4 linked regions of the Homo sapiens genome follow. The protein of the gene in region 1 interacts with the protein of each later gene in a pairwise test. Each region holds a gene or a part of one and is shown on either strand. Other genes may lie near its edges. The genes, in order: ASB13, ZMIZ2, POU6F2 and PANK2.

The links.
Region 2: the proteins of ASB13 (region 1) and ZMIZ2 interact in binary tests that used the Homo sapiens proteins (3 or more experiments, as listed by UniProt).
Region 3: the proteins of ASB13 (region 1) and POU6F2 interact in binary tests that used the Homo sapiens proteins (3 or more experiments, as listed by UniProt).
Region 4: the proteins of ASB13 (region 1) and PANK2 interact in binary tests that used the Homo sapiens proteins (3 or more experiments, as listed by UniProt).

Annotation. Positions count from the first base shown.
Region 1 is NC_000010.11:5,641,648-5,650,092, forward strand, and holds part of ASB13 (ankyrin repeat and SOCS box protein 13), read right to left. Parts: intron 7,458-8,445; coding exon 7,323-7,457; intron 907-7,322; exon of another isoform or gene 826-906; intron 315-825; coding exon 123-314; intron 1-122. UniProt on the Homo sapiens protein: May be a substrate-recognition component of a SCF-like ECS (Elongin-Cullin-SOCS-box protein) E3 ubiquitin-protein ligase complex which mediates the ubiquitination and subsequent proteasomal degradation of target proteins.
Region 2 is NC_000007.14:44,765,023-44,771,002, reverse strand, and holds the end of ZMIZ2 (zinc finger MIZ domain-containing protein 2), read right to left. Parts: intron 5,669-5,980; coding exon 5,424-5,668; intron 5,037-5,423; coding exon of another isoform or gene 5,002-5,036; exon of another isoform or gene 4,979-5,001; intron 4,840-4,978; coding exon 4,670-4,839; intron 4,583-4,669; coding exon 4,340-4,582; intron 3,488-4,339; coding exon 3,380-3,487; 3' UTR 1,122-3,379; downstream 1-1,121. UniProt on the Homo sapiens protein: Increases ligand-dependent transcriptional activity of AR and other nuclear hormone receptors.
Region 3 is NC_000007.14:38,972,238-38,981,571, reverse strand, and holds the start of POU6F2 (POU domain, class 6, transcription factor 2), read right to left. Parts: upstream 3,664-9,334; 5' UTR 3,619-3,663; coding exon 3,514-3,618; intron 1,678-3,513; exon of another isoform or gene 66-1,677; intron 1-65. UniProt on the Homo sapiens protein: Probable transcription factor likely to be involved in early steps in the differentiation of amacrine and ganglion cells. Recognizes and binds to the DNA sequence 5'-ATGCAAAT-3'. Isoform 1 does not bind DNA.
Region 4 is NC_000020.11:3,891,514-3,899,958, reverse strand, and holds part of PANK2 (pantothenate kinase 2, mitochondrial isoform 7 precursor), read right to left. Parts: intron 1-8,445.

The sequences.
Region 1 (8,445 bases):
CGCAGAGGACAGGAGCCAGGACTAACAGCCCAGCTCTCCGCGGAAGCCCACAGGGAGCCGGCACGTCAGGGGTCCAGGCTGAAGGCTGGAGGGGATGGGGTGCGCTCGGTGGGGTGTCTCACTTTCGTAGTACTCGAAGCACTTGGCGGGAGCGCTGCTGCTCCACGTGTAGTCAGACGGCTTCTTCCCGCGGTTGTCCCGGGCGTAGATGTTGCCGCCAAACTCGATAAGCATCTCGATGAGGTCAACATTCTTGACCTTGGCCGCGTGGTGAAGGGCAGTCTCATGAAGCTTTGCCGCATTCACGTTGGCCCCTGGAGGTCAAGAGTGCAGAAGAGATTTCACCAAGAAGAGAACTTGAAGTCAGGGGGACAATCAGGTCCGTTTCGTCACACAGCACGGTGGCAGAAGCAATCCCCACCCAGAAGACAAAATCAGGACAGACTCTACCGTAGCTTTCAAAAATGTTTTTCAACATCCAAAAGCAGGAACTACTTACTGTCCCCACTCATGAGAGATAAAGGTAGGCAGCAATAATAAAGAAATAACTAGAAATAGAACCGAAAAGAAGAAAAATAAAACGAAAAATGTCCTGAGTTAAACAACCGTTCTAATGCCCTATCAATCTGCCTTCAGGGGTCCTGAGATTTCCGGAAGCTCAAACCAGAGCCACTCAAGCACTCCCGCCTGGCCTCCAGCACAGACACACACTGCTTCTTCCTCTTGCGGGCCCAGGACGGAGGCTCCAGAAATACTGGTTGAATGAAAGAATAAATGTTCCTTAACAATGCATATTCTTTTACAAAAGGAAAACAGATAACGTACCCAAAACAGTAGGCAATTCAGAGAAGAGAGTAAGCTCTGCACTCCTCAACTTTCTCACGATAAGAGCAGACATTCATCAAGCTGATTAAAAGTAAAGGTAAAAAAAAATTTTTTTTTAAAAAAAAGAGCAGACATTCAGAAAGATGCAAGGAATTAGTAGCTAAATATGGCTGGTTTTGGGTTTTTTTTTTTGAGACAGAGTCTCACTCTGTTGCCCAGGCTGGAGTGCAGTGACATGATCTCGGCTCACTGCAACCTCCGCCTCCAGGGTTCAAGCGATTCTCCTGCCTCAGCCTCCCGAGTTGCTGGGATGACAGGTGTGCCACCATGCCCGGCTAATTTTTCTATTTTTTGTAGAGACGGGGTTTTGCCGTGTTGGCCAGGTTGGTCTCGAACTCCTGGCTACGGGCATGAGCCACCACACCTGGTCACATATGGCATTTTGCAACACACTAAAAAAAATTTTGATAAAAATATGATTTTTGTAACACATCATTCTTAGGGCACAGCCATCACTGATCCGATACAATGGAATCCCCCAGGGCTTCAGAATTCTTTTGAAAGAAAATGCCATTTTATTCGAAGTCTGTTCCTCAAGTAACAAAGGAGGTTATAAGAGAAAACAAATAAAAGAGAAGTGTTTTAAAGAAGCCAAGCAAATCGCCCAGCATCAGTAAAATAATTCGCCAAATGATAGATTCAAACCACAAACATAAAGTATTATCAAAAGTGGGATTTTAAAACAATCAGACACTAGCATGCCATCACTTCCCGACAGTCTCAGAGGGTCAAAAGAGGAGCTGAGAGGTGGAACGCTTTTACATTTTCTAGTTCCTCTAGCTCAAAAAGCATCGGAAAAATCCCGCTTTCTGCTTTAAAATATTTTAATCCCCTAAAAGCACATAAGAACCATGCTCATAACAGCATTCGTGGAGGGATCCTAAGAACGCCCCAGCCCTCCAAAGTGATGACATAATTTAAGAAAGTTCTTTCCACTTCCCGCAGCCAAAACTCAGAAGTCAGAACAGGAAAAGGATCTCTCAACTAGGAAAAATGCTAACTTATCTATGTCCTGAATTTGGCAGAAATGTACTACAAAAAAATAATATTCAAAAGCAATAGATTAAAGAAATATTTCCCCACAATTCAACCTCTCTTTCACATAAGGGGTTTTCCTCCAGTATAATGTTGCAATCATAACACGAAGTAAATTTTAACACTAAACATATGCTTGTAATGAAAAACAAATTGTACCATCCACAGAATCTAAAGTTCAAGTAGCTTTCTCTCATGTCATTAATTCTGGCAATATTCTTGCCAATTGGGAGAGAAAGAGATGGTCTCTATTTTAACAAAAGAAGAAAAACAGAGAAAGAGGCCCAAGGGAGGCACAGCTACTCTCTCACGATCAGGGAGAAAACCATGGCTGGAAAGAGCTCTAAAAATCACGCTCCCTGCCACGCTCCACAGACGAGGCCTTGGCCAGGGGCTCTTGCAGGGAGGCAGCCTTCCCAATGTACATCTTTTCAAAATGTGTGTTTGGCATCATTTGATTGGGTGGAAGGGAAGGAAGGTGAATAAGGAAGGAAATGAAATTGTGAATAAGGGATTGAAGGGAAACACCAGGCCAGGGGTGCAGGCAGCTACATGGATGGATCCTGAAAGTATAGCACTGAGTGAGCCAAGAAGAGAGTCAGAGATGAAACTCGATCAGCTATGTTCATTAAAAATATATGCTTGGGCCAGGTACAGGGCTCACGCCTGTAATCTCAGCACTTTGGGAATTCGAGGCGAGCGGATCTCTTGGGCCCAGGAAATCGAGACCAGCCTGCGCAACATAGTGAGACCCTAGCTCTACAAAAATTTAAAAATTACCCGGGGGGCGTGATGGCACACATCTGTGGTCCCACCTACTCTGGAGGCTGAGGTAGGAGGATCACTTGAGCCCGGGAGGTTGAGGCTGCAGCAAGCCACGATCGTACCACTGCACTCCAGCCTGGATGACAGAGTGAGGCCCATAGTGAGAAAGAGAACATAAACAGGTACTCGTTAGAGGAAAACAGGGCCAGACACGGTGGCTCATGCCTGTAATCCCAGCACTTTGAGAGCCTGAGGCGGGCAGATCACCTGAGGTCAGGAGTTCAAGACCAGCCTAGCCAATATGGTGAAACCTCGTCTCTACTAAAAATCCAAAAATTACCTGGGCGTGGTGGTGCACATCTATAATCCCAGCTACTCAGGAGGCTCAGGCATGAGAATCGCTTGAACCAGGGAGATGGAGGCTGCAGTGAGCAGAGATCACACCACTGCACTCCAGCCTGGGTGACAGAACGAGACTCCATCTCAGAAAAAAAAGAAAGAAAGAAGGGAACAGATACAGAGGAAAGAAGGAAGAGAGAAAGAGGGTAGGAGAGGGAAAGAAAGTAACTTTGTGTGAAGCAAGGATGGTAACATACCTTGAACTGAGAGGCAAGAGAAAGACTGAGGCAGAGACAGAGACACAGAGACAGAGAGAGACAAAGACAGGGAGCCAGGAAACAAGCAGGGAATTAAAAGCTCTGAACTTCGTGCTTCAGAGAAAAGGGGTCAACACAGGCTCATTACCAAAATCCTGCTTTCAACACAAAATAGGATTAAAGTGGATTCAGAGAACCCGTGGCCAGTGACGTGACGGGACCGCCTAAGACCTTAGCACGCCAAGACTGGCACAATCCTGGAACATAAACACAAATAGCTCAATAGGTGCTTGTTACCACAAGAGAAATTGAAAAAAAAAATTAAATTTAAAAAATTATAATTAAAAAATTTTTTAAAAATTAAACAACAATTTTAAAAAAATTTTTTAAATTGTGCCAGGGCCAGTGCTAAGAACAAAGGTGGAAGCAGGACCGTCCTCAGGGAGCCGCTTCCGAACACTCCTGGCAGAGTTCAACATTCACTGTCAGTGATCAGATTAAAAATTACTTCACCATCATAACCGGACTTTCACCCTCCCCAGCCCTCCTCCTTTGCAAATACAATCTGGTTCCTGGACTCGCCTCACTGCCTACAAAGAACAAGAACAACGGTCTCCACGTCCCCCGTGGGGTGCAACGTGGCTCTGCCTCACAGCTCAGCTCTCAAACCGCACATGAAAGCACCTGCACTCATGTGGGCCCCGACTGGTTCAATCCCTCTCCCCTCTCCACAGTAACTGGTTCAAATGATCCAGGCTTGAGCCGATCAGAATTTGGCAAAGTTTGGGCAAAGGGACTGGGGAGGGGTGCAGGAAAAGGGACTTTCCACTCTTCTGTTTTTCTAGAGACACGGTCCCTGGCTTTCCTTTGGTTTCCCGAGGGATCTGTGACCTGACCCCAAAAGATCAGAATCACTACTTTTTAAAAATCTGTTTGTGAGGACGTAGGGGATGCTGTTGTTTCTCTCTCCTCTGTATGTTTGAAATTTTCCGCAATGAAAAAATGGTTTCTAAGAAGAAGATGATGATCCATCTGCTCTCACAAGGGGTACTAGAGGAGACCACCCAAGAGTAGGATGGGAACCAGGAATCCCGCGTGGAGCTGATGGCTGGATGCTACCCACAGCATCGAGCCAACACCAACAGTCACTGTGCGGAGGCTTCCCCAAGAAAGCCACGTTCACCTCTAACTCCCCAGGGGCATGCAAACTCCCGGGGAGAGCTGTGGGAACCCCACTTTAGGGCGACAGTGGGCCTCACAGCTGCCCCTTCCTTTCCAGCCCCCACCCCCGACTGTGCTGCCACCTGGTAATGTGGTGGGGGCGGGAGCAGACCTGACTTCAGCTCCAGCGTGGGTCCCGCCTAGTCCAATCCCTCTCCCCTGACCACAGTAATTAGTTCTAATGACCCAGGCTTCAGCCCATCAGAATTTGGCAAAGTTTGGGCAAAGGGACTGGGGAGGGGTGTGTGAAAAGGGATTTTCCACTCCGCTGAAAGAGCCTCCAGAAGGCTTAAAACAGGAAACGTCTGGCGTGTAGGCCTGAAGCCACTGCAGCCCCGTGACCTTGCTCAGGGAGGCCGGAGGCTTAGGATGAAGCCAATACTGAGGAAAGCAGAATCGCAACGTTCAAAGAAACTGAGGCCTGGGTGACACCACGGAACCTCCGGTCCAGCCGCCCCTAATCCTGCTCTGCGTCTCAGCCCTGAAGTCACCTGAACTAGAAATGCCCGCCATTGTTTACCAGTGGAAGTGGCTTCCTGTTACTCGCAAAGGTGTCCAACTGACATGAAGTCCTAACTGATACAGAAAGGATGTTTGCTTTAAACACTAAGTTGATCCCTTTCCCTACAACCACACCAAACAGAACGAAGGTAAAAATGGAACTCGTGTGTACTGAGCTCATAAAGGCTTGATATGAACGCACTGCGCTGTGTTCATAGAAACGGATCCAGCTGCCAGAGGAACGGCTCGGCTGGAAACGCTTACACCTGCTTCCAATGGAGATACTTCTAAGACAGTGTATAAAAAAATTAAAAGTACCTCAACAACTATTCCTACACAAAACGAATCTTTTCCACTAAAAAGACTGAAAAGTGGCACATGAAAGTGAGTAAGATTCTCCAATAAAAAACTACACATAACTAAGCTCAAATGGCTGTCATCAGGGGGAATTCATGATCTTCCTGTTCCCAAACAGGTTTGTTCTTGTTGTTAAGAGAAGGGGACTTGCTATGTTTCCCAGGCTGGCTGAAACTCCCGGGCTCAAGCAATCCTCCCGCCTCAGCCTCCCAAAGTGCTGAGACTATGGCTGTGAGCCACAGTGCCCAGCCATCCTAAACAGTTTTGTTTTTATCCTACACTACACCCAGAATTTGGATAAGATGATGAAACTAAAATTTTCCCTCAACAAAACATTTAAGTTGGGTTGATAAAAACCCTGTGCTAACAGTCACTTTGGCTAAAACTTTTGGTATAGACAGGTCCTGAGCCTAATCCTCGATTGGTTGGTCTTTTTGGTTTTGATTTTTTTCCCTCTTTGGGAATCTCAATCCTGAGTCTTTTCGAACACCCGACAATGGCCTGGATTCCAAATGCTCCATATTCTCCTAAACGCTGCCAACTCCACTTCCCATTACATCCCCTTCTCTCTTGGATTCAGGCAGCAACCTCACCAGGCAGCTGTGGGGACAGTGGCCTGTGATCTCTAGAAATAATCATTGGCATCTGTTGAGTACCTACTAGGACACACCAGGCACCGGGGAAACATCCTCAGTTCTCCCAGCAACCTGCAGCATAGATTCTTCCAGTGTTACAGATATGTAAACTGAGGCCCGAGGTCTCAGCTGGCAAGTAAGAGAGCCAGCCTCCAACCCTGGTCCCTCTGACTCCTCTACCCAGCTCTCTGCTAGGCACAGTAAATACCTGTTCAGGTAAATGCTCGTGCAAGTAAACACCTGCTCAGGTGAACAGCCTTGCAAGTATATACCCATTCAGGCAAACTTCTCAGATAAATCCATAAATACACACTCTGCAGGTAAACACCCACTCAGGCAAACACCCACTCAGGCAAACACCCACTCAGGCAAACACCCACTCAGGTAAACACCTACTCAGGCAAACACCCACTCAGGTAAACACCCACGCAGGCAAACACCCACGCAGGCAAACACCCACTCAGGTAAACACCCACACAGGTAAACACCCACTCAGGTAAACAACCACGCGGGTAAACACTCACGGGGGTAAACACCCACTCAGGTAAACACCCACGCAGGCAAACACCCACTCAGGTAAACACCCACGCAGGCAAACACCCACTCAGGTAAACACCCACTCAGGTAAACACCCACGTGGGCAAACACCCACTCAGGTAAACACCCACTCAGGCAAACACCCCCTCGGGTAAACACCCACGTGGGCAACACCCACGGGGGTAAACACCCATGCAGGCAAACACCCACTCAGGCAAACACCCCCTTGGGTAAACACCCACTCAGGCAAACACCCACTCAGGTAAACACCCACGCAGGCAAACACCCACTCAGGTAAACACCCACTCGGGCAAACACCCACTCGGGTAAACACCCACGCGGGCAAACACCTACTCAGGTAAACACCCACTCAGGTAAACACCCACGCAGGCAAACACCCACGCAGGCAAACACCCCCTCGGGTAAACACCCACGGGGGTAAACAACCACGCAGGTAAACACCCACGCGGGCAAACACCCACTCGGGCAAACACCCCCTCGGGTAAACACCCACGCGGGCAAACACCCCCGGGGGTAAACACCCACGCAGGTAAACACCCACACGGGCAAACACCCACTCAGGCAAACACCCACTGGGGTAAACACCCACGCGGGCAAACACCCACTCCGGTAAACACCCACGCGGGCAAACATCCACTCCGGTAAACACCCACTCGGGTAAACACCCACTCGGGCAAACACCCACTTGGGCAAACACCCACGCAGGTAAACACCCGCTCGGGCAAACACCCACTCAGGTAAACACCCGCTCGGGCAAACACCCACTCACCTGCATTGAGCAGCACTTTGACACAGTCCAGATGCTCCCGGGCACAGGCAACGTGCAGAGGGGTCCCAAAATGGCAATCGTGCGCTTCCAGATTGGCCCCGACGTCAATAAGAAGCCTCACACATTCGGAACTCCCTTAAGATAAATGGAAAAGGGGGGGAATGTCCTTGAATACGGACACTGGAGACAACAAGCACACAGACGCGGCAGGGGCAGCAGCCTCCATCCTTGGTGCAGGGCAGGGAAGCCAGGCAGGCCTGCGTCCCAACCTAGGGAGGAGTTCATGACCCGCATGGCCCTCAGGAAGCCAGGACACGGCTCTGCGCCCCGCTGAGGACGGAGGGCTCAAGGCAGTGGGAGAAACGGGCCTGGCCGGCTTCTTGCTGTGAGAACAGAAGACATGGGGCACCACCTAGAATGGGTCAGGGAAAACTCCCCCGCTGCCCCCCTGCCCTGTGTCTACCTGCGGCTGTCAGCACTGAGCCCAGCCTCCCAGGAAACCCCCCAGACTTTCTTATGCAGGTCATCCTCCTGTGCACCACGGCAGCCGCCTCTCCTGCCTCTTTTTTTTTTTTAGACAAAGTCTCATTCTGTTGCCCAGGATGGAATGCAGTGGTGCGATCTCAGCTCACTACAACCGCCATCTCCCGGGTTAAAGCGATTCTCCCACCTCAGCCTCCCAAATAGCTGGAATTACAGGCATGCACCACCGTGCCCGACTAATTTTTTTGTATTTTTAGTAGAGACAGGGTTTCACCATGTGCCAGGCTGGTCTCAAACTCCTGACCTCAGGTGATCCGCCCACCTCAGCCTCCCAAAGTGCTGGGATTACCAAGGGCATGAGCCACAGCGCCCGGCCTCTCCTGCCTCTTAAGTGGCTCCTCTTCCTGGGTCTGTAATGCGGATTTGGAGCGGGGTTCCAGGCCCCCCATCCTCCCGCCCCTGCACATTCCGTCTAGGCTCCAACCTTTCCGTTCACTCAATTACCTCTTCACTGTTGGCAGCTCCCTAATTTTCCCCACCAGCCTCACACCCAGCCCCAGCCCCAGAGCCATGTGCTGGCCACCGGCCGGTGTCTCCCACTCTAGAGCCCTCTCCCTTTCCTGGGGTCCTTGCTCCTGAC
Region 2 (5,980 bases), on another chromosome or scaffold:
ACGTGCCATGACACCTGGTTGATTTCTAAAGATTTTGTCGAGGCAGGGTCTCTGTTGCCCAGGCTGGTCTCGAACTCCTGGCCTCAGGCCATCCTCCTAACTAGTTCTCCCCAAGTGCTGGGATCACAGGTGTGAGCCACTGCACCTGGCCCTGTTCAGATTTTCTATTTTTCCTGGGACAATTTTGGTCATTTGTATCTTTCTAGGAATTTTTTTGTTGTTGTTTTGAGACAGAGTCTCACTCTGTCACCCAAGCTGGAGTGCAATGGCATGATCTCAGCTCACTGCAACCTCTGCCTCCTGGGTTCAAGTGATTTTCCTGCCTCAGCCTCGTGAATAGCTGGGATTACAGGTGTGAGCCACCACGCCTGGCTAATTTTTGTGTTTTTAGTAGAGACAGGGTTTCACCACTTTGGCCAGGTTGGTCTCGAACTTCTGACCTCAGGTGATCTGCCTGCCTCGGCCTCCCAAAGTGCCGCGATTACAGGCGTGAGCCACCACACCCAGCCAAGATGTCGCATCTTTTTAAATGTTGGCATTTGCAGCTATAAATTTCCCTCAGAGCAGTTTTTGCCGCATTCCTTAAGTTCTGGTATGTTGTTTTCATCCATCTCTATTTCCTAATTTTTCTCGTGATTTCTCCTTTGACCCTTTGGCTGTTAAAAAGTGTGTTCAATTTCTATGTATGTGTGAATTTTCATTTTCCTTCTGGTATGGATTTCTGGTTTTATTCCATTGTGATTGGAGAAGGTGGTTTGCAGGATTCCGATCTCTAATTTACTGAGACTTGCTTTGTGCACTAACGTGTGGTCTGTCCTGGAGAACGTTCCCTGTGCACTTAGAAACGTGTGTTCTGCTGCTATTGGGTGGAGCACTGTTAAGTCTGGTCAGCCTTTTGGTTTTTATGTAATACTTGGCACATTCACAAGAAAATGTGTGAAACAGAAAGTACGACAAAGTGAAACCCACGAAGCCACCACTGACCCTGAGGTTCAAAACCTCCAGCATCTCTGCTCTTCCCTAAGCACAGCTCCGTCCCCTCCCCACGGGTGAGCACTGTGTTGTACTGACTCCCTGCCCTCCCTGATGACTTTAGCACCTGGGTATGAATTCCACACATATTTGGTTTTGAGCTTTATAAAAATGGCATCATACTGTATGAACTGTCTTGCTTTTTCATCCCACGTTGTTTCTGAGAGGTGTTTGTGATGGAGCACAGGGCCACGGTGCCCATGCATTCCTCAATCATTTCTCCAGTCTTCTGAGGATGGGCTTCTGGGTTGTTTGCAGCCTTTTGCTTGTCCCAGTCTCCTAGTTTCTCCACTCCATCCGGGAGCATCACGTTTGCAACAGGCAGGGCAGGTGGTGCATCAGATGTCCAGGACACAGTCATTTGACACCCAAGAAAGGAGGGCCTGGGGCCTGCATCAGGCCATGGCTGAGTGGGACTTTGCCAGGCTGTCTCCGCACCCAGCGACAGGACTGTGCGTGCTGCTGCTTCTTTTGTTTCCTCCACTTCTGTTCCCTCATCCAGAGAGGGCGGAAGAGCTGGAAACAGAGGCTTTGTCAGGGAATAAGGAAGCCCACCTGTGTGGTCCCAAATGTCGCAGGGGCAACGCTCACACCAGATACCTCCCTCCTCCTCCTCCCTGCAGCCTCTGGGCTCCCACAGACAGATGCCCTCCTCTAGTGCCTCCAGGGGCAGGCCTTGGCCGCCAGCCTGAGGATGCCCAGCGCTCCCCTCCTCCCCTAGGTTCCTGTGTTCCCCCAGTTCTTGCCTCTCCTGCTGGCTGGCTGGGAAGGCCCTCAAGGATGGGGCCCAGGACTGGAGGAAATGGTGACCCGGACCCCCACCAAGCTGGACAGGCAGATGGTAGGCAGGACACACCTCTGCAATCTCTGGGAAGTGACAAGCAGAGGCCTCCCAGGGACAAGAGCTGAGAAGGATGAGCCCCTGGCTGGGCTGGGGCTGCCAAACAACTGTCTCAGTGCCCCAGGGCAAGCCCAGATAAGGTGACATAGTGGCAAATGTCTCTCCTGGGCAAGCCTGGGATGCTTCACAAAACAGCTCTTCAGCTGAAGCCAACTTGGAAAATTCCAGGGAAAAGGAAATTTACTATGGGGCGGGAATAGCCGAGCCTTGGCTTGAAACATCCAGAGCTCAACCTGGGGCCCCAAAAGCCACTTGAAGGTCGACCTGGCCCCCAGGTCCTGCACAAGCTTTGCAGGCACAGCCCAAGCTTTAGGCAGGTCGCTGGCTTACGAGGAGAAAATAGTCCCTGGGAGCACAAAGGAGGGACTCGGCCAGGCCCACCAAGAGGGAGTCCTTTAATAGAGATCGGCACAGACAGGAGACACAACAGCCCAGGCGCCCTGCTCGCACAGGCTGGGGCCCTGAGCCAACAGATGCAGTGGCTTCCTCCTCCCCCACCTGGGTGTGGGCCCATGGGGTGGAGACAGAGAGGTGGCTTTAAAAAACACAGCTGTACTAATTCTTCACTTTCACAGAGAAGGGGAACTTGGGAGCGCAGCCCGCTAGAGAATCTTTACACAGAGCTGAATCTGAGAGCCCACCCACCCACCTCGGCCAGGCCGAAGCTCACTGTCCCCCACCCATTGGAGGTTCCTCCCTGATCTGTCTGCACATGGGAAGGAGCAGAGCGCGCAGGGAGACCGGGCTGTACAACAGGAACATGCTGGCTGGACAGCTGGCTCCCCTCTCCCAGCTGTTAGTGTTTCTACACTATGTACATTGTTGTGCTTTGTAGCTCCCCCACCCCGAGGCCTCTGCTTGAAGCTGGGGTGGGGAGAGGAACCTGACACCACACACGGCTGGGCTGCCAGAGCTCCAGGCCCCCAAGAGGCTGCCATTCAGCGAGGTTCCAAGAGCTGGACTGCTGGGCACAGGGGCCACTGGAGCCAAAGGCCCAGGGGACAGAGCCAGCCCTGCCAGATGCCCAGCTCTGCCCAGTGGAGGAGTTGTTGAAACAGAAGGATCAATGCTGGACAAGAAGCAGGCTGGGTGGGGGCAGGCAGGGGTGGAAGGACAAGGTGTGAGGCTGTGAGACCAGGGGCGTGAGATGTGTGTGTGGACAAGGCTGGACAGGGCTGGGCAGGGGCACCTCAGCAAAAACCGTTCTGCAGCAGCAGGCTTGGCAGAGGGAGGTGGCAAGGGCTGCCGGCCTGGGAGCCCCTCCCATCGAGCACAGGGCTGCTTCCAATTCAGGGGCAGGGCTGGCGGCAGAAGGCTCTGGCTCCAGGTGTGTTTTGGGGGAGGTTTGGGAAAGACCACCGGGTGTCCCATGGGGCTGGGCATGAAGGGCAGGGCTGTGGTGACATCTGTGAGCGTGTCCCCGCCGGGCTTGGGGTAAACACAGGATCAGTTGTTCTCAAACAGAGAAAGCAGGTCGTCATTGTTGTTCGTAGGGAGGTCGGGTGGGCCCAAGTAGGACAGTAGCTCATCAGGGTTGGTCAGTTCCGGGAGCAGCTGAGGACAAAGTGAACTCTGTTAGCAGCTTTGGTCACTGACTGGCCACACCTGAGTGACCATCCTGTCACCACATCCCGGCCCTGTCTCCAGGCACAGTGGGGATGCTGAGCAGCCCCTCCTCACACACAGGCCGGGTGCGGGGCCCCACCATAGGCCTGCATGTGCTCAAAGAGGCACACGCCACCCCCTGGGACCTCCCTGCAAGGTTGCTCTGGGGCCAGAACAGCTGGCAACATGCTGTTCAATACCACCAGGAAACGGGATGTGAGGGAGTGCAGCCACTCCACACTCCCTCTGTGCATCAGCCTGCGTGGGGATCCCCACCGTGATGCCCCAAGGTGAATGCTGGTGGTGGAATTCCATGCCCCTAGGATTTTCTGCTTGGAGCTGTTCTTCCTAACTTTTTCATGTTGAACTTCTAGAATGAGTTTCATGTTGAACTTCTAGAATGAGTTTCTATTATGGTCCAGGGACAGTCAGTTCTGTCCTTCATGTACTGAGTTTGCACTCCCATTCCACCTGTGAGTCAAGACCCAGGGCTACTGAGCAAATGGACAGACGAAATTTGACTCTAAGGACCGTGCTGTCAGCTTCCAGTGCAGTCTCCTCTGAGACTCTGCGTCCGCCCGTACGGCATCCAGGCCCCTCATGAACACAAATGTGGTACATCGCATCCCACCCGCAGCTACTCCAGGTATCTAATTCATGAACAAAAGCTGCATTTAGTTGACCTTATCTGACCGGCTCTCTGAGGGGTCACTGTCTTCCCTTCCAGAACGCACCTGGAACAGACACACCACCTCTAGCCCTGGCTCCCACGCACTCCCCCGCATGGGGCCTGGTACTCACGTCCAGAGCTGGTTCTGGGGCCTCCCCGGCTCCAGACATGCTGGGGGGCCCCATCACGCCTGTGGCAGGACTGAAGGCCAGTTCACCCGTAGGTCCTAAGCTCGCTTGGCCCAAGGACTGCCGGGACGCTGGGGGAGGGTTTGAATGGTGCAGCTGGGGACCTGGAGGGGCCCCAAGGTTGGAGGTGTGTAGTCCTGGTGTCCCAGGATTGTGAGTGGGGTCCAGGTGACCTGCTGGTGCCATCTGAAGACAGAGAGAAGAATTTGTTAAAACAGCTCAGGGGCTCCCCTGGGGAGACAGGGCCCCTTGGCCTCTCGGCTTGGCACTGACCTGGCTTGGGAGGCAGGCGGTAGACTTCTCTGAAGTCAGGAGGCTGCTGGGAATGTCAGACTGGTAGGAGATGGGGGGTGGTCCCGGGGTGAACTCAGCAAGGGTTGGGGTGCTGGGCGTGGTGGGTGGGAAGGACTCAGGGAAAGTTCCAGGCCCCAGGAAGCTGGAACCTGTGAGAGGAGAGTCGGGGCCTGGGTGAGGGCTGGGGAAGGCCACCGCTGGCAGAGGAGCCAGGAGGGAGGCTGGCTGTGGCATGGGTGGGACTTGCAGTGCTCACCCACAAACAACAGCGGGTTTTGCAGAAGTCGCTATTTGGAAAAGGGCATTTCTTCTCATTGCTGCCAAGGGAATTGGCCTTGGGACATTCCTAGGAGTGAAGGTCTCGGAGGTTATAGGAATGGGAGCAGCCACAAACAAACGCACCACGCGTGTGAGGTGGGTCCCAGAGGGGGGCCCCAGATGGGGCCAGTCCTGTGAGGTGTTCCAGCCAGGAGCCCCTTAATCCAAACGGGGAAGGAAGGGTGGAGGCCCCACTGTCTGTTTCCTGGGACCATAGCTGAGACTGTGCCTTCACCGCCACGTCCCTGAGATGGGAGGGGCTGGAGGTGCCCCGCGGCATGTTTTGTGTGGCAACACTGATAACCTAGGTGTGTGACCTGCATAGCCACATTCTTGCAGGTGAGGAGACTGATCTGGGGAGAGGAGCCATATGCCCAGGGTCATCTGAGGTTCAAGGCTAGCCTGCTGTACTTACCCTGGCCAGGGTAGTCGCTGGGGGCAGGGACTGAGGGGGGCTGCAGGGGGGCAAAGGGGGCAGCGCCGGGGCCCAGGGCGGCGATCATCTCCATCACGCTGGGCATGAGCACGTGGGCGGGGCTCACGGTGCGGCAGCGCTTCAGTGCTGGCCCATCCGGCTCCTCCTTGATGTGCATGTCAGGCTTCACGGGCACTGGCTTCCAGCTGCACGTGGGGTCGATGGTGATCTCCTCATAGTCAGAGCTGGGCAGGGACAGGTGGGGAATGGTTACCTCCTGGCCTGCTGCTGGCCCGGCACCCACTGCCCCTCCCAGCCCTGGGCTGTTTCCAGGCAGGTTCCCCCACTCAAATGCTTGCTTCCACCCAGCACCTTCCACATCGAGCAGGACGCTGGGCCCAGCACCAACACTCAGGTAGGACACACACGCTGTCTCTGGCCTGGAATCCAGCCTGCTCCATGCCGGAAAAAGGCTGGAAGGCTGCACTTGGCAAGGGACATCCCCCGACATGTCCTGGGGCTGCCCTCCAGTGGCCACAGATGCAGGGATCACAGGA
Region 3 (9,334 bases), on another chromosome or scaffold:
ATATACTTGATAAATATTTTCATCTAATTTGGTTCATCTGTTGTTTTTATTAACAACTAATTTAATATCCTCTGTTCTGCAATATTTGCAAAAGTCAGTCTATAGACGTGAAGCCAACAGGGACCCTCAGGCCTGTGCATCAGGATGGTGGGCTGCCTAAGTCCTCTGGGGACAGCAGTGCCAGAAGGAGTATTGGACACAGTGACCCGACTGTATGAGATGAGAAAAAACAAAAACAGGAGGTCCGCAGTACTGATGAACTAATCTGTCACTCACAAGCTCAGGTCTGCAAAAAAAAGAAACGAAGCACTAAACATGGCCATAAGAGATGGAAATGCAAGTCTTCATTTCTAAATGATAATCAAACCAACGATCAGAAACTGATTAACTGTGTAATTGAATTGAATTGAAAATCATCCCATGAATAACAATCCATCCTACCTTCAAGGGGTTAGGAAGCTAACTACAGGTAATTGCTATCAGAAATCTGATTTGATTTCCAAAAATTGTGTGAATGAACCAAGTTTCTTCATCTTGATATACTAGGCAGGGAGTTTGTTCTTCCAAGTACTAGACTGCTTAATTGCTTGCTTGGGGGAGGAGAAATCCTAGGGGAAAGGCATATATGAGCAATTTCTACTCTGTGAAGCCAGCGCTGTGTCCTGAGCTGGATCATGGCCAGAAACAGAAAAGTCTACTCTTCCCTACAGTGGAAGCAACTGTGGATATTTCATCCTAGGAGTGAATGAAAAAACCTAAAGCTCATACTTCATGGGAATCTTTCAATATTCTGACTGAAAACTGGTTATTTGCTCCTCCAACCCAAAGCCATCTAGGAACAGCACTCAGAACAGGAAAAAAAAAAGACAAAAATAATAATTATTCCAAAACGTATTTGAGCAGAAACAAACACAAACATTTGCATTATTAAATGGGCTTGTTCACACCTGCTGAGTAGATATAAGACGATATTTAAGACAAGAGCTAAAAAATAAACCATCCCTTTCTGGTTTTGAGTGACAGCAGAGCAATAAAAATTATTTTCACATTCTTTTCCCTATTGTTAGAAGTAATCATTTGAGTAAATACACTTATCTGTGCTGTAACTATTGAAATGAATCCACTTCAAATATGTATACCACCTTTCTTTTTTATATTTCTAGATATGGTTTCAATATAGACTTTCTGACTTTTATGGTATACATATAGGACAATATTCTATTCTTCTTTCCTTTTAAATACTTACTGTTTCAATTTCAAATAAAAAATCAGCATTCTAGTTTGTACATTTTAGCACAGAAATGTTTACAACCTTCAGCACAATTGCTTTTGTAATTTACTGACTTGGCATTTTGAGGCGTTTTTAACAAATTATGAGAAATAACACCTTCAGAAAGCATGTGACTACTTTGATGCAACTATTTACAATGTATTCATAAGAAGTCATTAACCTGTAGAGTTCTTAGACATGTGGAACCTTTAACAATTATACTAAAGAGTACATACAAAATACAGAGCTATGTAATAATAACTAATTTTAAATCCTGACAAATTAGAAGTTAAGCCTACTATCTGTAAAAATATGTCCTGATTCATTTTTTTAAGTATATACCTGAGCCTTTAAAAAGTATATGCCTTTACAATTGATTTCCAATAAACAATACTGAATAACAAACTACAAGTGACTTTCCTGATTTTTTCACCAGAAATATATAGAAAAAGGAAATCCTATTCTTATTAGAGATTGAAGTACAGTAATTCTGCACGGTATTAAGAACCATAACTATGCCATACAGAAGACAGGACCTGCAACCTAAGAAAAGTTTTATTAAACAGGACAAGACAGTGATCAGGGGCTCAAGTTTTATTTCAATATGCAAAAGTCATCTATTGTAACAGATATTTATTTCATTCCCTACACCACAATTATTTTAGCTATATTTGATATATTTGCTCGTCAGTGAGTACTTACATTGAAACAGGTATTAAGAGTATATAAAATCAGTTTATATATTTTCTCCTGCCTAGAGACTTCACTTTATATATGCTTATAGAACAAAAATTAACTTGAAAGTTTTAAAAAATATTTCTCTGTCGAAGCAAATATCTACTTCTTTTAAAATAGTGTGAGCCTGTGAAAACATGGTATTATGTATTTGACATTTTCCATCTAAAAATACATTATGAAGCAAGCATGCTGGTATTAATAAACCATGTGCTTTCAGAACCCTGAAGTGCTTTTCTATAATTTTGTTGAAAACAGAATAAGATGATATATTTTCCACCATGCTATTAACATAAAGCAAACAAATTTTATGTCATTGCCTTGCCAGCTTGTCTTGATTGGAAAGTGTACAAAAAAAAAAACTTTTAGGAGTTTATAAATATTCGTGACCATAGTCTGGTTTATGAGTTAACAATCCATAAGTAAACATAGATAACTTAGAAAAATTTAGTCAAAAATACATTACAAAAAAGAAAAGAAACCATGTATATTTCCTTTTTCCTTACCCCACCCCCATCATAGTCAGAAAAATCACCCTCCCTTTGCAGGAGGGTACTATCCTTCCTTCCACCACTTTAGTTATCTGAAGGCAAATGAAAATACAATGATCCTTTTCGTTTTCTGATTTAGCTTACAACGCAAACATTTTAACACAAACATAAACTACTGACTTCACGGAAAGCACCAAACAGAAAGAGCAAGATTCACTGACCCATTTGGAAGACAAAGACGACAGAGCGGGAAAGCTCTAAAAATCAGCTTGTGAGGCCTCTGAGAGATATTCTTCTGGCATTTCATCACAGCAGCCCCAGACCAGCTCACCTCCCTAGATACAAGGAGGAGGCACTAAATGGAGCTGTTTATTAAAGCTGCTGTGCTGGATTGCATTAGGAAGCGCGAGCAGACCACCTGGACCTTTCAAGATTGTGACAGTGTTTAATTTGCAGCCTGCCCTTCTGCAGCAGCCAAGACTACTACTACATTTACCGGGCTCAATCACACATTATCTGGGTTAGAAGTCAAGGCACATGTATTTATATATTTATATTTCCCATATGGAGAAAGGGAGAGAGGGAGAGAAAGAGAGAAGGAGAGAGCACAGTCAAAATAAAAATATTGAACAGCATTAGAAAAATATTAACTACTACCTAGGAAACCACACTTGATTCTCTTCTCGCACTTTCTTTCAGAGATCAAAATCCAAAAAGAAAGCAAATTTCTAAAATAGATTTTTAAGAAACATTCAGACCAAATTATAAATTAGATTTATTCTCCAGTGTTTTTGTTGTTGTTTTAGTTTTTGTTTAAAAGGATCGCATTGAAGTTTTAAGCTGAGGTTTCCCTGGTCAGATTTAATGGGTGCCTTTTGCCTTTCGCACTTTCAGCACTACACTGGCAGGTAGCTGAAGATACAGATAGAAAGATGGTACTGTAAATATGAATTATGTGAATCATATGGTGAGACCCTTGTGGAAAAAAGGGGAGTTGAGAAATGGCTGACTCCATACCTGACCAATTACAGCTTGCATGGTCCCCGTGTCCTGCTGCGCTGAGAGATAGCAATCCATCATATGTTGTCTTTGAAAAGGAGAATGGGGGTTTCTGGCATGCATCTGTCAATCAACTTCTGCACTCACAACCATCACCAAAAGCAAGGGGAAAAAAAGTCAAGCTGCTCCACCAAATAGAATGAAACCGTCATGTGACCTCCGGCAGACACGCACACACACATTCACTACCTCCACAGAGCGTAAGAATTTTCTGTAGATATGAAATGACATTGACAAATATCCAATACCAAGTAAATAAAGTGAGACAAACAGCTATTCACCAAAGACAAAAACATGGGCTGTAATCTTCCGCTAAAGGTTTAACAAACCTATGAGGATTGTTTTTAATGCTCTAGAAATCTATGTTTAAAACAAAACAAAAACAAAATGAACTATCTCAAATGAGTGTCCATTAAGACTTTGATTTTTGTGCTATTATATACATTTTTAAAATTACAGTTCATTGCTCTACTTTTCTTAAGGGGTCCCTAATGATTTTATTTTTAAAATCTCTAAATGACCTTTTGATAATATGCAGTTATCTCTGTTGTTTTATATAAGGACACCTTTTCAGAGAAGCTTGAAATGTGAACTGCTACATAACAAACACCCTGATATTTGTGAATTGGAAGTGGACATAGAAAATAATCCGTGTAAATGATGATGACCACTGTAATATAAAATATTCAAAGTGTGTAAATAGCAGTCACTAAACTTTTTATCTTCTGAAAGGTAAGGGATGATTTACTTGCAGCTCATCTAAACTGATGTAATGTGTTTTTAATGTGATGACAAGTATTTTAACTTTCTAAATTTAATTTTAACTATCTGATTCCTCACAATCTAGGGACAGATTGCTAATGCATTATGGGTCAGTTATTGTTAAGGGTGAAAAGAATATAACTTACCAACTTTTTAACCTTCTTAGGCTAAAGATCGGAACCTGACTTTCAAGACAATCCTACAGGTATTGTAAAGTTGCTCTCCAAAAACCCAAACCCATAAACACCATCCGTTAACTTGGTGGCTTTGTGGCAGTGAAGAACATTCGCATTTGCCTACTTTTTTTCTTTTTTTTTTTCATTTGCCTACTTTTTAACTGAAGTTCATTAGTTAGTATACTCTCCCTAACTTTTCAAAACAAATTTATGGGAAAACCTTGTGTTAATATTAAAATGGAGATTTTTTTCAAGGCTCTAAACTGATGACAGGTCGGGTAGCAATGAGAAATATTTAATACAGAATATATACTATTATGTATATTATTGCATAATACCCACGGCTTGAAAATTAATCAAAAGGAACTTCAAGTAAGAAAAAAAAAACAAAACAATTTTCAACATTGTTAAAGAAATCTTTAGGAGCAAAGAATGAAGGACCGAAGCGCGCGCGCACACACACACAAACACACACACACAGACACAGACACACACACAGTTAAATCAGCATCCCCAAATAAAATGAGACCGTGCACCAACTGGGTAGCCCTCCTGGGAGCTGAGGGCTAACTGAGGAAAGGCCCTTCTCAACATCATTAAATGTCCCGTCTGCGCTGAAGTCCTACCCGGGGGTTTCTGCAGTTATCCCAGATCAGAACCTCAGGCTTCCCATCATCTCCTTTGGCCAGGGAAGGGGAGGCCAGGGAAGCCGAGCCTGGAGCATCGACAAGGACTGAGCCAAACTTGCCCGAAACCTGCGGGCTCACAGAGGGCAGGGGGCGCGACTGCTCCTGGCATCGCCTTCTTGGGACCCCGCCTGGGCGGACACTAGACAGAAAGCCAGGTGACGGGACCAGTGGGAAGTTGCGGAGGAGGGGCGAGCTGCAGTCCCAGGCCGCAGCAGCCGCTGAGCAGCCGCCCCCGCTTTCTAATTCTTGGGGGGTTTGCAGCCAAGCCTGGAGCGCACCCCGGCGGCACCGCCCTCCTGGGCGCCCGGGAGCCCCGCGCCCTCCGCCTGCGTCCTCGGACTTAGGCAGCAGAGCCGGTGCGCGGATGGCGTGAGCCCCGGGGTGGTTTTGGCGTCCTGCGTCCTCTGTAGTGCAGCCTGGGTTCCCCACGCGCTGCCACCCGATCGGAGGCTCAACTTCCCCTGGGATCTAAGCTTCTTAAGCGCCTTCCTATGGGGCTGGGGGCTGGGGGTGTGGGTGGAGGTGGGTGGGAGAGGCTGGCCAAGCTGCAGTATGAGGCCGAAGACCTCCTTTGAAGCTCTGTCCCACAAATTATGGTGGTTCCGATTGGCGTAGGGACAACACTCTTTGCTTATATTCCAGTTGTTTACATGACCATCTGGCCTGTATGAATTATAATTATTACTAGCCAGCGTTGATGGGAGGCTGAGCCAGGCACTGTGTCAGACACTTCACAGTATGTTACATGTGAAATAACAACTCAGTGAGGCAGAGATGGTTATTCCCATTTTGCAGATTAGGCTCAAAAAAAAAAAAAAGGTAACAACTCATGATTAATAGGAATATGATTTGAACCTGCTCTGAATCCAAAACTGGAGCCCCTTCATATGAAACCACAGAGTCAAGTAACATTCACAATAGTGACTATCACACATGAAGCACCCACTCTTCCGCACATATTTATGGAACCTGTACTAGGTGCCAAGTACTGTATTGGTGTTAGCGCAAAACAGCACAGATTGCTTTAGAAACATAATAAAAATAAACCAAATGGTTAAAAGATTTATCTGGGGGAATTGTTTGATGCTAGCTGGTGGAACATGCTGACACTTTAGGCACCATAATGCATGGGCTCGGGTTGGGATGGACTCCCTCCCTGACCTCTCAGAGAGTGTGGCCTTGAGAAAGTGCCATTTCTCTGAGTCATGGATTTTGTGTCTTATACCAGTGATAATAATCCCTCAAGGGTAGTGTAAGGATTTGGGGAGATAATGTTTTGTGAAAGCTTATTGAGCTATACTGTGTAAGTGCCCAGCAAGTGTTAGTTATTTTCCCATATGGGAGGTCTATGGAGGGCAGGAAAGATTAATTCTCCTGGGGAAGGGAGGAAGCCTCTATGCAGATGGTGAAAAGATTTGGGTTGTGATATAAACAGAGGGCAGCTCCTGTTCAGGGCAAGGGAAACAGCATGAGCAAACCATCTGTTTCTCCATCAATGTGGGTGGCAGACACTTCTAAGGTTTGATTAATGGAAAACAAATGGGAGAGAATGGGGGTATGCCAACTAATATTGATTCCCATTCCCACAGTAGCATTTTAGGAAAGGAGACTCCTTGAGTGAAATATTCACCATTACCATCATCTCTCTGTTTTCTTACCTCCCATCAAATTTCCATAATATTGTGCATTTTCTGGCCCTCTAAAGCCCACTCCTTGATCGCGAAGCAGCTAGATATGTCCTTTTCCAAGATACTCTTGTAGGCAAGGCAGCAGTGATGGCAAAAGGTCACCGTAAGTCAAACCAAAAGAGGTCCCACCATTGCCCAAAATCCCAGTCCCTAGCTTCTCAGGATAGCGATGTCCTTGATTTCTTAAACCACAGAGGACACTGATAGATAAATGGAGGACTGGGAATCAAGATAAAGTGCAGAAGTTGGTCATCTCCATCTTCCTTTGTTTTGATGAATGTTTTGCAATGTTTAGGGATGAGAAGAGCTAACATACCTGGAGGCTTCTTTAATCCAAGGACCAAAAGCAAAAAAAAAAAAAAAGTGAACAGATGGTTCAAAAAGTCATCAAGACACTCTTACTAGACTTAGTATATTTCTACTTATGCTATCATAACATGTAGATGTAATACAAATCGATATGACATGCCTTTCTCTCTGTTGAGACCTGTTCTTTTTGTTGTAGTTGTTTGCTTTTTTGTTTACGGTTTTACTCTTTTTTTTTTTTCATTTCTCTGTTACTTCTTGCTTTTGCGTACATACCTTTCCTGGTTTTTAAAAGACTAACTTACCATTCCTCTGACTCGTTTTATTTTTCATTTTAAATCTCCCACCCCTAGTTTACTAGACTCCAGTCTTCTTCCTACATTAAGCATCATGGCAGAGCACTCTCTACAGCATGACTCACCACATAGCTGTGTCATCACGTGATTTTTGAGGCTGACATGGGAATCAGATGACGGGGGGACAAGAATCAACATACCCTAATCAAGACTCCTCATTGACTGCCCTTTCCCTTCTTCAGTTGGCTTTGCTTCTGCCCTTCTTTTCAAAGTCAGTTTTTCCTAGAATTTCATATGCTGCCATCAGCCTCTGGAATGATCCATTGCTTTTTCTATTTTTACCCCCACAACACTACATTTTTGTCTACTTTCAAGTTTTGTAGAGCATTTCTCTGGAATGGTCTTTTTAATCACCATCAGTTTCCTTAAGCAACATTAGGGGTCTCTTAATTCCACAGGACATTGACCAGTGTAACTGATCTATAACCTGGGATCTTTTGTTGTTATTTTCATATTTCTAGGGAAGTTGAGGACAGGAAAAATACCCAAAACAGATTGATTATTTTTAAAAGAGAAGGGGAGAAGGGAGGAAACCTCACACATCAAGCCCAGGGACTACAGAGTTGAGAGGGGCTTGACTTGGCTGAGCCAAGGCACCGTTAGTCGTGATGACCTATGATTTACAGTTTTCTTCTACAACATAATTTGGGAGCACTGGTTTTCCCCTGAGAAACAGTGACAAGATATTGCCTTTAAAATGAGCAGCTGAGAAGTTCAAGAGCCTGTTGACTCTGGGCAAGGAAGACCTGTGAATATACTAATGCATTATCAGACCTCCAACTTCGTCATCCTTTCTGCCAGGGGACTTTACCCAGGATAAAAATAGAAAAAGCCAACACATGGAGCCAGTTCCTTAATTTCCATTTGCCCTCTTCATGAAATGTTTTGGCTATAGTTATGCATTTCTAGGTCTTCTAGAATATATTTCTTCTGCTTGAATATGCTTGGAAAAAGGCATTGAAATGCTCCTGGGTTTTACTGTACTTTGGGTAGTTTTTGTGTCTGAGCCCAAATGTTAACACGTAACTTCTCATGAAAATTCTCCACAATGGTGGAGACACACATTCTGTTTCCTTACAGCCACAGTACACTAGAGGACTTTTTCTATTTCATGGTTATAGCTTCACATGCCTGAAAAAGCTAAATACCACTGTCCTTTTATTCCTTATATTGATAGATTCACAACACATAGACCTAGTTCCACCATTTTAAAGACAAACGTTTTTAAATGGATGACTGTACAGAACGAAATTCATCAAGAGAACTTCAAAACTTGCAGCTCTTACATTGGAAAACCCATATCTATATCTATTCTGGATTTCTTTGTAATCATCATCATCATCAATAACAATAACAGCAATAATAATTATGGAAAACATAGAAGAGGATCCCAAGATGTAGTTTGAGTACTCTTGAGGGTTCATGAGGCCCTTTCAGGGGGTCTGGAAGGACAAAACTTTTTCAAAATAACACTAAAATGAGATTTTTTCCTTTTTCACTCTCATTTTCTGAAGAGCATACAGTAGCATTTCCCAAAGCTGCATGATATGTAATTTCATAGCAGATTGAATGCAGAAGCAGACATGAGACTCCAATCATCTTCTAGTAAGTCAGACACTTACTAGAGATTTGCAAAAATCTAAAACAAAGCCACTCTTTTTACTAGATATTTTGTTTGTGGTAAACATAATTTTTTTCATAAAACAAATTATTTATGTTATGTAGCTATTTAAAATAAATCAGTAAGTAAACTTTTAATTTATTGGTTTTAATTTCTAATATAGTAAATATTAGTAAACATA
Region 4 (8,445 bases), on another chromosome or scaffold:
GCCGAGGCAGGCGGATCACGAGGTCAGGAGATCGAGACCATCCTGTGAATGGTGAAACCCCGTCTCTACTAAAAATACAAAACATTAGCCGGGCATGGTGGCAGGTGCCTGTGGTCCCAGCTACTTGGGAGGCTGAGGCAGGAGAATGGTGTGAAGCCGGGAGGCGGAGCTTGCAGTGAGCCAAGATCGCAGCACTGCATTCCAGCCTGGGCAACAGAGCGAGACTCCATCTCAAAAAAAAAAAAAAAAAAAAAAGTACAACTGATGAATGTAATAGCCATGTTCCTTATGCACATAACACATACTTCGAAAACACTAACAGAGAAACTGACACATCTACAAGTCAGTATGAGAATGACACAGACCTCAGGAATTTGTAGATTGCACACACACCTACAAAATTATGGTAGAAAGAGAATTTTAATATCATGGCTAATAAGGTGGATCTAGTAAACACAAATAGAACTCTGGGGAAAAAAAAAAAAAACAGCCGGATGTAATGGCTCACATCTGTAATCCCAGCACTCTGGGAGGCCAAGATGGGTGGACCACCAGAGGTTAGGAGTTCGAGACCAGCCTGACTAACATGGTGAAGCCCCGTCTCCAATAAATACAAAAAATTAGCCGGGCATGGTGGCACATGCCTGTAATCCCAGCTACTTGGGAGCCTGAGGTAGCAGAATCACTTGAACCCAGGAGGTGGAGGTTGCAGTGAGCCTACACTACATCACTGCACTCCAGCCTGGATGACAGAGCGAGACTCCATCTCAAAAAAAAAAAAACCCGGCTGGGCACGGTGGCTCACGCCTGTAATCCCAGCACTTTGGGAGGCCGAGGCAGGTGGATCACGGGGTCAGGAGTTTGAGACCAGCCTGGCCAAGATGGTGAAACCCCGTCTCTACTAAAAATATAAAAAATTAGCCAGGTGCAGTGGTGGGCACCTGTAATTCCAGCTACTCGGGAGGCTAAGGCAGGAGAATCACTTGAACCCGGGAGGCAGAGGGTGCAGTGAGCCGAGGTCGCACCACTGCACTCCAGCCTAGACAACAGCAAGTCTGTTTCCCAAAACAAACAAACAAAAAAAAACACTCAAGACCAGCAAGACTGTTTCCCAAAACAAACAAAACCATGCAAACATTCCTTTAAAAACCCATAAAGCACTCACAAAAATTAACTGCACTAGCTTAAAGAACTTCAAATTCCAAAGAACAAGTCACATTCACTTACTGCAAAACTTCAAAATTAGAAATTAATCCAACAAACAAAGAAATAAATCTATCTACTTTGAAATTTTTAAACTATTAACTCTGGGATTAAAAAGGAAATCAAAACAAAATTTATTTTTAAATGAATGACAGTGAGAATACAATATATAGAAACCAATAGGATATACCCAAAGTAGTACTTAAACGGAAACATCTAGCCTTACATATTTATTAAATATACTCAGCAAGAAAGCCTAAGGGCGAGGCAGCTCATGCCTATAATCCCAGCATTTTGGGAGGCCGAGGCGAGTGGATGACCTGAGGTCAGGAGTTCGAGACCAGTCTGGCCGACATGGTAAAACCCCATCTCTACTAAAAATACAAAAATTAGTCAGGCATGGTGGTGGGCGCCTGTAATCCCAGATAATCAGGAGGCTGAGGCAGGAGAATTGCTTGAACCCGGGAGGCAGAGACTGCAGTTAGCCAAGATCGTGCCACTGCACTCTAGCCTGGGTGACAGAAAGACTCCATCTCAAAATAAATAAATAATAAAATAAAAAATGGAATCTAGTTGTACAGTAAAATTAATAGGCCATAGCCAAAAGAGATTCTTCTCAGTAATGCAGCAATGGCTTTTACATTAGAAATTCCAATTAGTAAGATGAAGGGAAAAAAATCATGATTATCTCAACAGATTCCAAAAAACAAAATCCAATATAACCAATTAAAACCAAGAGGTTTTTTTTTTTGAGATGGAGTCTCGCTCTGTTGCTCAGATGGAGTGCAGCGACAGACCTCAGCTCACTGCAACCTCCGCCTCCCAGTTGTTCAAGCGATTCTCCTGCCTCAGCCTCCCGAGTAGCTGGGATTACAGGCTCGTACCACCATGCCCAGCTAGTTTTCATATTTTTAGTAGAGACAGTTTCACCATGTTGACCAAGCTGGTCTTGAACTCGTAACCTCAACTAATTCGCCCACCTCGGCCTCCCAAAGTGCTAGGATTATAGGCGTGAGCCACTGCACCCAGGTTTTGTTTTCGTTTTTGTTTTTTTGAGAGACACAGTCTCACTCTGTCATCCAGGCTAGAGTACAGTGGTACAATCACCAGGTTCAGGCTCACTGCAGCCTCAACCTCCCTGGCTCAAGTGATCCTCCCACCTCAGCCTCCCAAGTAGCTGGACTACAGGTGCAGGCCACCACAACCAGCTAATTTTTTGTAGAGACGAGGTTTCACCATGTTGCCCGGACTGGTCTCAAACTCCTAAGCTCAAGCGATCCACCCGCCTCAGCCTCCCAAAGTACTGAGATTACAGACGTGAGCTAACACATCCAGCCTAGAGCTCACTGATAAGAGAAGGCCCCTGCCTTCTAGTTAGTGAGTCCTGGCCATTAATTTTCAGATATTTCAGTCTATTCACAGCCCTTAACATATTTCCTGATATTAAGACCTCCAAGGTACTCAGTCTAGACAACCTATACTTGACTTAGGCCACATTTCAAAACGTATGCAAAGCACAAGGTCCCATAATAGGTCTCAACGACTGAAATCCTTTAAGAGTGTGGAAAAACAAAGTTTTTCCTCTGCTCTCACACCACAGCAACGATCAACACAGAAGACTTCTGTGAGCCCACACACAAAGCAAGTAACCAATTCTGCAGCACTCACCAGCTGGGTGCCCTCCAATGCAATTCCAACGACTATGTACCTGGAGATAGCATCATATGCCACAGGTCGAGGGCTAAGTCCCTCAAGACTGCTCCTCCACCACACCTCTGCCAGACACCAGTTGCCAATCTGGGCCTCCAGAACTTCTGATCAACTGGCTTCAAGTTGGAGTTTGCATGACCCCTCTTTGGTTTGGATTAATTTGCTAGACTGGATCACAGAACCTAAGAAACACATTTACTGGTTTATTATAAAGATATTTCAAAAGATTCAGAGGAAGAGACGCATAGTACACAGTATAGGGGAGGGACACGGAACTTCTGTGCTCTCGGGCACTGCACCCTCCTGGAACCTCTTGTTTGGCCATCCAGAAGCTCTCCAAACCCTGTCCTCCTGGGTTTTTAATGGAGGCTTCATTAGTAGGTATAATTGATTAAATCACTGTCCACTGGTGATCAACTTAACCTTCAAGCCCCCACCCCTCCCCAGAGGCTGGAGAGGAGTGAAAGTCCCAACCCTCTAATCCTGTCTTGTTCTTTCCATGACTAAGTCCAGAGGCTTCCAGCCATCAGTTAACTCCTTAGCACACAAAAGGACATCACTGTGGAGTTTCTAAGGATTTCAGGAGTTGTATGCCAGGAAATGGGCAAAAGACCAATATATATATTTCACAACATCACACTTTCCAATGGGAAATACATAGTTCAGTAGGCTGGGCATGGTGGCTCACGCTTGTAATCCCAGCACTTCGGGAGGCCAAGGCAGGCGGATCACGAGGTCAGGAGATAGAGACCATCCTGGCTAACATGGTGAAACCCCGTCTCTACTAAAAATACAAAAAAAAAAAAAAAAAAAAAATTAGCCAGGCGTGGTGGCGGGCACCTGTAGTCCCAGCTACTCAGGAGGCTGAGCCAAGAGAAAGGGCATGAACCCAGGAGAAGGAGCTTGCAGTGAGCCAAGATCGCACCACTGCACTCCAGCCTGGGCGACAGAGCAAGACTCCGTCTCAAAAAAAAAAAAAGAAACACACAGTTTACTTTTAAAAGTGTGCTCAATTTTCCAATATTATGAACTACACTTTTACCAGACCACAGATGGTTAATGACATCGCAAATCCATGTCTAGGCTGTTCTAGGAAAGCAATATCTTGGCCTAACATTGAAAGAGGTACTTTAATAATTATTCTTATTCCCAAAATAGTTTTAAACTCAGGGACTAGATACTTATAAAAGACCACATACCGTAAAATCAGCAAATTCAACAACAAATTCTACATTCAGGAAATATAAACACACAAAATGTAACGAACTACTAAAAAACTGAGATGGGTTTCATTTTTAGAAAGCAAACTTTAAGCCGCAATTTAGAAAAGTTTTCACATCCCAGTCAGTCTTACCTGAACAGTGCCTGAAGATACCCCAAATTATGAACCTGAGAAAAGCTCACAAGGCTACAAACTTTAAGTCCAAAAAACATCACCGCTCTTTTAAATAATCAAAATAGCCATTCTTTTCATTGCCTGATGCTCTACAATAGCCTAGTCTATCTTCCTCCTCCTATTTTTTGAAATGTTTTGAGAAAAAAAAAAAGAAAAAAAAAAAAACGGAGACAGGGTCTCCCTCTGTCGCCCAGGCTCGAGTGCAGTGGCATGATCATAGCTCAGTGCAACCTCAATCTTCCGGGCTCAAGCAATCCTCCGGGCTCAAGCAATCCTCCTGTCTCAGCCTCCCAAGTAGCTGGGACTACGACCATGTGCCACGACATTCTGCTAATTTGTTTATTATTATTTATTTATTTATTTATTTATTTTATTTGAGATGGAGTCTCGCCCTGTCTCCCAGGCTGGAGTGCAGTGGCGCAATCTCGGCTCACTGCAACTTCCACCTCCTGGGTTCGAGTGATTCTCCTGCCTCAGCGTCCTGAGTAGCTGGGATTACAGGTGTGAGCCACCATGCATGCCCTTTTTATTTTTGGAGAGACGAGGTCTGGCTATGTTGCCCAAGCTGGTCTTGAACTCGTGGTCTCAAGTGATCTTCCCACCTCAGCCTCCTACAGTGCTAGGATTACAGAAATGAGCCAGCATACACAGTCAGCAAAATATTTTTAACAACATACATCTCTTCCTGCTATGGTCTCCCCAGATAGAAGGCAGGGACACCAACACTAAACAACCATATTATCCAACTGCATGATTCTTACACATGGCCCCTAAAGTAATATACTGTACCATTTTACACAGCTGCATAAGGGGACGATTTTTAGTCCCTGCTTATTGCTTAGTATTTATTATATATCTAAGAAGACAGGCTGTATTTACTTTGGTTCCACTTAAAGTTGATAAACTGGCCAGGCACGGTGGCACACACCTGTAGTCCCAGCTACTCAGGAGGCTGAGGCAGGAGAATCACTTGAACCTGGGAGACAGAGGTTGCAGTGAGCCAAAATCCTGCCACTGCACTCCAGCCTGGGCGACAGAGTAAGACTTCGTCTCAATAAATAAATAAATAAATAAAAAGTTGATAAATCAATAGGTTAAAAAACACCTTCAGGCCAGGTGCGGTGGCTCACACCTGTAATCCCAGCACTTTGGGAGGCTGAGGTGGGCAGATCACCGGAGGTCCAGAGCTCAAGACCAGCCTGACCAACATGGAGAAACCTTGTCTCTACTAAAAATACAAAATTAGCCAGGCGTGGTAGCGCATGCCTGTAATCCCAGCTATTCGGGAGGCTAAGGCAGGAGAATCACTTGAACCTGGGAGGTGGAGGTTGTGGTGAGCCGAGATCACGCCATTGCACTCCAGCCTGGGCAACAAGAGTGAAACTGTCTCAAAAACAAACAAACAAACAACATCTTTTCGGTCAGGCACGGTGGCTCACACCTGTAATCCCAGCACTTTGGGAGGCTGAGGCAAATGGATCACCTGAGGTCAGGAGCTCAAGACCAGCCTGACCAACATGGTGAAATCCCATCTCTACTAAACACAAAAAATTAGTTGGCCATGGTGGTACATGCCTGTAATCCCAGCTACTTGCGAGTCTGAGGCAGGAGAATTGCTTGAACCCAGGAAGCAGAGGTTGCAGTGAGCCAAGATTGCACCACTGCACTCTGGCCTGGGCAACAAGAGTGAAACTCCTCTAAAAAAAAAAAAAAAAAAACAAAAAACAAACAAAAAAAAAACTCCCATCTTGCCTCTCCCAATGGGCCACAAAGCTATAGCAATCTAACATTTTTCCTCAGCTCCCAGGGGTCAATCCGTCCTAATTCCCTGAAGCTGAAATGCTGAGCCTAATAAAGGCAGCCTAACAGGGCCCCGGCTCCAGTTCCATACTGCCAACAGCAACGCTCCTCGGAAAGCCAAGAAAAAATGATCCATTTTCTAGGCTAGTGTTGTCAAGCTACAAACAAAAACTGTATTATGAAGGTTAGATTTGTAGGAGTCCAAAATCAACAAGCCCCAAAGGTCTCCCTGGCATGCTACAACATGCCTTGCGAGTCATCTTCAAAGGATAAGTTTGTTGTCCACACTACTGTGGAGCACTCTGATCACAGGGCTTCCACACCTTCTGCACACCTGCTGCACATATGCTCAACACCTGGAGCCCTTGATAAAAATGTATGTTCTCTTGTTACATGAGTGTCTACATTTGCCAAAATTGTACATTTTACTCTATTTAATTATGCCTCAATAAAATTTAAAATATAATTTTAGACCCCTTTGCAGACCTATATCATGCAATGGTAGGTTGAGGGAAAGTTTTAAAAACTTGAGAACCACAGCTCTGGATTACATCACACATACCTTCCCCCACCCCAAAATGTGGACCAAGAACACTGGATCTGAAGTCAAGACACCAGGAATCAAAACCCAACTCCATCACTAACTCACTATATGGCCTTGGACAAAAGGACAATTTCACTGAGCCTGTTTTCTCATCTGGAAATTGGGGATAAAAAACACCTACCTCACAGGATAGCTATGAGACTTAACCAAGATGCTTATAAAATACTCGGCATAGTGTCCAAGACAAATAAGCACTCAGAAAATGGTAGCTACATTACCATCATTAGCGTCTTGGTTTCCATCATTTTAAAATCAATCTTTATTTGGTATTTCTTTCAGCCCTGCGAGACATACCCCCCTCCCCACCTGATGCAAAACTTTTGAAGAACTTAAATATACACATGCCTAGCCTCATCGCTAGGGATTCTGATGCAGTAAGTCTGGGACAAGGGCCGGTTTGGGAACTACACTGCTCTAGGAAACGCGTGACAGAACACGACTACAACCAGGACCACAAGAATGCCTAAGATAACCTGAATAGCTCCTTCGACTTTCAAATGACAACTAGTATCTATCTGCACCTTTAGACAAGTAGTGCGGTATCAGAGTAAGGCTTTTTTTTTTTTTTTTTTGAGACAGAGTCGCTCTGTCGCCCAGGCTGGAGTGCAGTGGCGCGATCTTCGATCACTGCAACCTCTGCCTCCCGGGTTCAAGCAATTATCTGCCTCAGCCTCCCGAGTAGCTGCGACTACGGGCACGCGTCACCACACCCGGCTAATTTTTTTGTATTTTTAGTAGAGATAGGGTTTCACCAGAAAGGTGGCACCATTCCATACCCAAACCTCCCAACAATAAATAAAAAAGATTTAGTCTTAGTTGAATTCTCTCAGAGATAAGACTGAAGTATACTCTAGGAGGGTTCGGCAGTCAACAAGCTGCTTCTCCTTTTTTTTTGTTTTTTTTTTGAGGAGTCTCACTGTATCATACAGGCTGCAGTGCACTGGCACAATTTCGGCTCACTGCAACCTCCACCTCCCAGGTTCAAATGTTTCTCCCACCTCAGCCTCCTGAGTAGCTGGGATTACAGGCATGCACCACCACGCCCAGCTAATTTTTGTATTTTTTAGTAGAGACGGGGTTTCAACATGCTGGCCAGGCTGGTCTCTGGTCTCGAACTCCTGACCTCAGGTGATCCACCCGCCTTGGCCTCCCAAAGTGCTGGGATTACAGGCATGAGCCACTGCGCCCAGCCTGCTTCTCCACCTAACAGGGGCACCCCTAGATAGTACAGAAGAAACAAATGGAAGGAAGAACAATCAGTATCCTGTTCATTCCTTTAGCAGGTCTTATACTGGAAAGATGGGTTTTCATGATTTATCAGCCAGAGAAGATAATGAAGGGAATCACGACAAACATCAAACATCAAAACAAAATATAAATCCTATAGCATGAATATGTGTCTACTTAGTTCCCTAAAATAAGTTTCAAAACTACCTTAATATAATTCTCCCCACCCAGTGTAAACCGGTTTTTCTGAGTGTGGTCTTTGAGTCACCTGTATTTGAATATGAGGAGCTTAACTGGGCCCACTGAATCTGCACTTTTACCAGGTCATTCTCATGCTCAATATTTGGAAGTACTTCCACAGTATCTAAAAATTTTCGCCTCAAGTAAGTCAGTCTTGAACACAAAAGATCAAACTTATGCTTGGTCTTAGAGCAATGAAGAAATAACTAACAGAACGTAAATAATTCAGAAAAACACAGTGGTCCACCGCAAAAGCTATGAAGCT